Homo sapiens: one gene and its partner. The protein of the gene in region 1 purifies or fractionates together with the protein of each later gene. This does not show direct contact. Each region holds a gene or a part of one and is shown in the gene's direction. Other genes may lie near its edges.

Evidence for each region.
Region 2: the proteins of MAGEB1 (region 1) and EID2 purify together in Homo sapiens (affinity purification with western blotting, with the first as the bait; one study listed by BioGRID). This does not show direct contact.

Annotation. Positions count from the first base shown.
Region 1 is NC_000023.11:30,245,866-30,249,945, forward strand, and holds the start of MAGEB1 (melanoma-associated antigen B1), read left to right. Parts: upstream 1-1,280; 5' UTR 1,281-1,391; intron 1,392-1,524; exon of another isoform or gene 1,525-1,607; intron 1,608-4,080.
Region 2 is NC_000019.10:39,538,207-39,541,544, reverse strand, and holds EID2 (EP300-interacting inhibitor of differentiation 2), read left to right. Parts: upstream 1-1,383; 5' UTR 1,384-1,465; coding exon 1,466-2,176; 3' UTR 2,177-2,838; downstream 2,839-3,338.

The DNA of each region.
Region 1 (4,080 bases):
TGAAGTGAAGGAATAGATCAGCATGTTTTTTTCCCTGAGAGCACAACATCTGTCCTAGGCTCTCCACCTTCCGTTTCAGTTTCCCAACATCACATCACTTCTGGGACAGGGACCTCTTCTCTGCAAGGTTTGCAAAGAGGAAACTGGTCAAATTTTTGCAGGGATGTGACATTTCCCTGGAAGAGTTTGATCAAGAGACAGAAGCCAACATGAGAACCCTCATGAATGAATGGTGGGGAGAAAACCACTCCAAAATGTAAGGGTTCATCCAGACCCTCAGGAGAGTGACCTCAGTTCAGTAGATAGAGGAGTCCCAGGTTCTGATACATGTAAAGGCGAGGAGCATAAATGAAGACTGATGGAAGGACCCAGCCAAAACTGTGGGGTTCTATGGAGTCCTTTCCTTATTATCTGTTTTTGCAGGTTGCAAAAGGACTGTGATCATATGAAGATCATCCAGGAGTACAACTCGAAATTCTCAGAAAACAGGACCTTGATGTGAGAGGAGCAGGTTCAGGTAAACAAAGGGTAAGTTACAGGTTTGCTCACTTGTCAAGGTGAGGACCTGAATGTGGACTAAGGGTAGCTAGCACCCACATGGCCTCACAAAGTCCCCTCTGCTGTCAGCCCTAGGAAGCCTTGGCGGAGATGGCAGGCTGAATTCTGCCTGGAAAGTCTCAGGGAGATGACTGGTTCCGTCTAATTGGGGCAGCCTCAGTTTTACAGAGCGAAGAGGCCGAGACCCTAACAAGAATCAATGTAGGGCTTTTAAGTGTTAAGAGGGGACTCCACCAGCAGATGAGTCCCCACAGAATTCACCCCGTTTTGAGGCATCAGACAGAGCTATCTACCTAAGGTGCCTCTCATTTCCGCCTGGAAGGTCTCATGGAGGATGGGGAGCGTGGGGCCTGAAGGGAGTAGCTTCAGTTCTGCCTGGAGAGGAAACCAGAGTCACGGTGAGGACTCTGAGAGCTGATGAGAAGGCCTCTGCCCAAAACGGGACTTTCACAGAGCCCTGCCGCTGCTGTCAGGCCTGTGAGGCCCAGGCAGGGGTGGCCTGTGTGGCACGCTCAGATTTCCACCTTGGGGGCTGAGAGAGGTGGGGCTATTGTTTGAGGCTGGCGGATTTGGGTCAGCAGGCGGAGTCGTCCCAGACTGCTAGATACTAAGGTGAGGACCCCTAGTGGGGACGTAGGGACCAGCGACGCTAGAACAGTTACGTCCAGAAGCGTACCACCCCTGCCGTCAGCCCGGAGGCCACGGGCTGCCGGATGTGGCTCATCCTGACTTCCGCTTTGAAGGCGAGGACCCCAGCGAGCGTAAGGGCGCAGTGTCCGCCTGGCGGATTTGGGTCAGCAGGCGGAAGTCGTCCCAGGCTGCTAGATACTAAGGTGAGGAACCCTAGTGGGGACGTAGGGACCAGCGACACTAGAACAGTGACGTCCCGTAGCGTCCTGCCTCTGCCGTCAGCCCTCAGAGGCCCTGGGCTGCCGGATGTGGCTCATCCTCATTTCCCTTTTGAAGGCGAGGACCCGAGCGAGCTTAAGGAGTGGGGTGCAGCGTCTGGTCAGCGGAGGGTGAATTCTCAGGACTGGTCGGGAGTCAAGGTGAGGACCCTGAGTGTAAATTGAAGAGACCACCCCCACCCGTAACAAAGAGGTCCCCTCTAAGTCCCGCTTCTGCATTTGGTCCTGGGAGGCCTCAGGTAACCAGATGGGTAGCACCCTGACTGTCTCTTCAGCGACTCAGGGAGACGAAGGCTTTGGCCTAAGCCTTATAGACTCAGGTCAATAGAGGGAGGAGTCCTAAACCCTACTACCCGTAATCCCAGAACTCTGGGAGGCCGAGGCAGGCGGATCACGAGGTCAGGATATCAAGACCATCCTGGCTAACACGGTGAAACCCCGTCTCTACTAAAAATAGAAAAAATTAGCCAGGCGTGGTGGTGGGCTGCTGTAGTCCCAGCTACTCAGGAGGCTGAGGCAGGAGAATGGCGTGAACCCGGGAAGCGGAGCTTACAGTGAGCCGAGATTGCACCACTGCACTCCAGCCTGGGTGACAGAGCGAGACTCAGTCTCAAGAAAAAAAAAAAAAAAAAAAAAAAGTCCCGCTCCTGCTGTCGGCACACGCAGGCCCCAGTCAGCCTTGGTGGGATGTGGCCCACTATGACTGTGAACTTAGGTCCAAGGAATATGAGAACTTTTGTCTACGGGGCATGGTGTTAGGAGCAGTTGATGGGTGGAGTCCCAGAAAGAGTGCTGAGTGGAGGTGGAGACACTGAGTGAGGAAATGGCGGCTACTCTATACACGAGGGAGACAATTGCGCCTGATGCTGTCCCTGGGAGTCCCAGGCCAGAGCTGGCAGGCTCAAGTACTCCCTGGCTTCTGCCTTCATAGTCTTAGAGAGAGGAGGGCCTTGGTTTAAGGCCTCACTGCCCCAGTTCAGTAGAGAGATAGGAGTCATACGCCAAGACAGGTGTCAAGGTACAATTTCTTTATGAGGAATGAGGTAACCGTCTAGTCCAGAACAGGCAGGAACACAGTCTTACCTTGGCGTTCATTCCTTAGAAGCCAGGGTTAGAACTCTCAAGTTGAGATGCCCCTCATTTCCTTCAGGTACTGTTTCAGGTACATAATGGCTTTGGTTTAACATGAAAGCCCTTGTTTAGTACAGGGAGGAGGCCCAGTTCCTAAAAGATGGTGACACTGAGGGAGTATGAGGGGACCCCCTCCAAGAAAGAGGTAACACAGATAGAGCCCTATCCCCACTGAGACCTGGGAGATCCAGGTATGGTGACATGATGAGTCTCACTCACTTCTTCCTAGAGCATCTCAGGGAAGTGGGGAACTTCATCAAAGGGGGCAGCCTTATGTTAGCAGCTAGAGGATTCCTAGGTAATTCCAGGAGTCAAAAAGAAGACCCTGAGAACTGGGGGAACCACTCATCCCATAACAGTGAAAGAAACACGGAATTCCTTCCTGATTTTCATCCTTGGGAGATGATGGACAATTGTAGCCAGATGGGAAAAGTTTCACTTCTTCCTCAGGGAGTTGTCGGGGGGTGCTTTGTATGACTGGATAGGCGTTAGATCAAGACAGAGAAGTCACTGAGGGAGGAATGAGATGAGCATTTACCTAGAGAGTGGGGCTTCACCAAGTTCTACCCCCTCTCAGCTCTGGGAAACCCCAGGCAGAAGTACCCAGATGTGTCATCCCCTCAAGACTAGCCCTGGGTACTCAGAGAGGTGAAGGCTTTTGTATGAGCCTGGAAGAATCAAGTGGGATTAGAGAGGAGCTCAGACTCTGCTTGAGTGAAGACTAAAGAGAACAACGACCCCAGAACAGTGGAGCCCCATAGAGGACGTGGTGACTGGATGTGATTCAGGCTTTCTTTCATCTTGGGACTATGAGGCAATGAGAATCTTAATCTGATGTAAGGGGCCTCAGGTCAGTAGAGAGAGGATTTCCAGGTTGTGCCAGGCCTCATAGAGAGGACTTGAGGGAACTCCCACCTCATCAGTGGGGATCCCTCAGAGTCCCTCTGTATGTCAGCGCTAGGAAGCCCCGAGCATAAATGTCAGAAATGCCCCTAAATTCCTCTTCAGAAGTAACAGGGAAATGAAGGTCTTAGTCAGATGGGTTAGCAGGAGGGGTGGGAGGCATTTTAGGCCCTCCCAGGAGTCAAACTGGAGACCTTGAGTGAGGACCATGAGTGGGGCTACACATCACAGGGCTTCAACCTGCCAGCCACAGCTTTCAGCCTCTGGAGAATATGGGCATTGTGACCAGATACAGCCACCCTCATTTCCTCCATTGGGTCTCAGGCAGATGTAGGCCTTACTATGAGTAAATGTCCTCAGGTGTAGAGAGAACAGAGCCCTAGGCCCTTCTGGGAGTCGAAGTGTGAGTGTGGACTGAAGGCACCATTCCCCCAAGCCCCCAACCCCCACCCCAAATAGAGGAAAAACAACGATGCTAGCCCTGTCTCTGCACTTAGCTCTGAAAGGCCTTGGCCAAGGGTTGCCAGGCTGAGACTTTATTTCTTTGCATCAGGTCTAAGGGAGGTGACAGCTTTGGTCT
Region 2 (3,338 bases), on another chromosome or scaffold:
TGTCTCTACAAAAAAATTAAAAATTAACTGGGTGTGGTGGTGTACACCTGTAGTCCCAGGTACTCAGGAGACTGAAGTGGGAGGATTATTTGAGCTCGGAAGGTTGAGGCCACGTTGAGCTGTGATTGTGCCACTGCACTCCAGTCTGGGTAACAGAATGAGATGAAAGAAAGAAGGAATGAAGGAAGGAAGGAAGGAAGGGAGTGAGGGAGGGAGGGAGGAAGAGAAAATGTGAATGGATGAATCTCATAAAAATAATGCACAAAAAAACAGATACAAGTGTGTATGTGAGAAAACATTTTAAATGGTCCATTTCTGAGGCATGATAAATCTAAGTACTGGCAGCCAGCCTGCAAATATAACAAACTGCAGGGCTCATCCACCTAGAAGGTCACAATAAGGGAACAGAATGTAGAGGCGGGGTCAGCCCATAAAAGGGAAGAAAGTGGCCGGCGCAGTGGCTCACGCCTGTAATCCCAGCACTTTGGGAGGCCGAGGCAGGCGGATCACGAGGTCAAGAGATCGAGACCATCCTGGCCAACATGGTGAAACCTCGTCTCTACTAAAAATACAAAAATTACGCAGGTGAGTGTGTTTCTCACATAGATAAAGTTCAGAATACAAACCAAACTAAACTACAGCATTAGGAATGCACCCTTAGGTGGTAAAATGAAAAGAAAAACAAGAAAGTGATTACCATAAGTATCAGCATAGTTGTTACTTCTGCGTAGAAAGGAAAGGATAGTGATAAGAAGAAGAGGAAGGGTTCTGGGATGCTGGAAATATTCCACTTCTTGGACTGTGTGGTAGTTAAACGGATGTTCACTTTGTGATAAATCATTCAGCTGTATATTTATGTTTTGTTTACTTTTCTGCATGTTATATTGCACAAATAAGATTCGAAAAACAAATGTCCAAGGTAGTCAATGCAATGTTAAAGATAACACGAAAAGACTGTAATTACAAAGCTTTGGTAGCTAGGACGATCCGTATGGATGAAGACAGGCAAAGGAATGAATGAAAAACAATTTAAAAATCCAGAAAAGACCATGAATCTAAAATATCTTGATATATAATAGAGGTGGCACATAATCACTGGAGAACAAAGAGAAACACCCTAGGACAGAACCTTGAGAACGCCTACAAGAAGCGATCTTGTAAGCGTTCCTCATAAACATCAAACTGGTTGAAATGTCCCCCGCCCTTCGTCGTTGGGATGTTTCAGATGCGTTGGCGCTTCCCGGCCTCGAGGGGGCATCTGGAGAACGGCGGGCGCCGGGAAAGTACGCATGCGCACTGCTCCCAGGGTTTGCGGTAAGAATCTATGCTCTCGCGCCCGGTTACGCACACTGCATTTACAGCGCGCATAGCGCCCACGCACGCGCACTGGGGTGTCCGCCGGGCATCGCTCTGTCCAGTTATTCCAGTTTCTCTGGGAGCAGCCGAGTTGACCCCACGGTCTGAGATGTCCAAGCTGCCCGCAGACAGCAGTGTCCCGCAGACAGGCGCGGCGAATGGTGACAGAGACGTCCCGCAGGCGGAGGTAGGCCGCGGGAGGCGGGAGCCGGCCCCGGCACAGCCTGAGGAGGCCGGGGAAGGCGCGATGGCGGCGGCCAGGGGAGGCCCGGTGCCGGCGGCCAGGGAAGGTCGGATGGCGGCGGCCAGGGCAGCCCCGGCGGCGGCAGCCAGGGGAGCCCCGGTGGCAGCGGCGGCGTTGGCCAGGGCAGCCGCGGCGGGCAGGGAAAGCCCGGCGGCGGCGGCGGCCAGGGAAGCCCGGATGGCGGAGGTCGCCCGCTTGCTGGGGGAGCCAGTGGACGAAGAGGGTCCCGAGGGCAGGCCCAGGTCCAGACACGGGAACGGAGGCCTGGCTGCGTTGCCCTATCTCCGTCTCCGCCACCCACTTAGCGTTTTAGGCATCAATTACCAGCAGTTTCTCCGCCACTATCTGGAAAATTACCCGATTGCTCCCGGCAGAATACAAGAGCTTGAAGAACGCCGCAGGCGATTCGTGGAAGCCTGCAGAGCAAGGGAAGCAGCGTTTGATGCCGAATATCAGCGAAATCCTCACAGGGTGGACCTCGATATTTTAACCTTTACGATAGCTCTGACTGCCTCTGAAGTTATCAACCCTCTGATAGAAGAACTTGGTTGCGATAAGTTTATCAATAGAGAATAGTTATGTGGTGACACTACTTCAAGAGAACCTCTGCATTCCAGTCATACCAATCCTGCAACTTGATTTTCAGAAGTCAAGAGTATATCGCGATAAGACAGTGCACAGGTGGAGGGGAAAAAAAGGGGGAGGGGGAAGCTTATCTTGAAAAAGCATCACAGAAGTAGAAAAAAATGTCGAAAGCATTATAACTGTAACGTTCTTTGAGTTTGTGATTGATCCACATTTTTCCCCCTGCATTATGGAAAATGTCTCTCAGCATTGCTTTATTACAAAGTAAAGGATGGTTTTATAAAATTGAGACTGATGAAACATCAATACTAGAGCCCATGAGGATGAAAGAAATTATCAAATAGTGCTGAACAGAATAAGATGTTAACGCTGAGTTATTAGGACTGGAAGGCTATGAAAAGAACTTGAAATTGTCGGAATATGTGCTCTCTTCATGTCATATTCAATAGAAGTTTCTAGTTTAAGATTGATTTTGTGTTTTCTTAGGCATTTCAAGTGACAAGCAAAGTAAATGTATATATTATGTGATAAATCATGTTTTCAAGAACGTCAAATTTCTGGACTTTTTTCTTTCAATTTTTAATTTTTAAAGTTTTTTTGGTATTAAAAAATCTATTCACAAGCCAAAAAATATATAAAATATACAGCGAAAAGCCTTCCATTCTTGTTTTCCTCCATCCAGTACCAACGATGACCTCTAATAGCCACAGTTTCCTTTCCGTCCTTCTAGTTTCCTTACGTGTACACAGGCACATATAAATCTGGGTTTACTTGTTTTATTTCTTCACAGAAGTCGGCATATTATATTTACTGGTTTATACATTGCTTTCTCATTAAGAACATATGTTGACCCTTCCAAACCACTGTATTTCCTCATTATTTTTTAAAGTGGCATTTTATTCCATTCTGAGGTTATGTCCAAATTTACTTAACCAGGGATATATTGACGGACATTTAGGTTGTTTCCCATCTCTTTCTTTGGGCAGAATAAAAAATTGCTAGAGTAGTTCATCTTGTACAATTGCTAGAGTAGTTCATCTTGTATATCATGTGGCATGTGCACAAATATAGTATTGCTTCAATTCAAAATTCACTTCATATTTGAACATCTCTGAAATGTGGGTGCATCTTATATTTGATGCTGTAATAGATC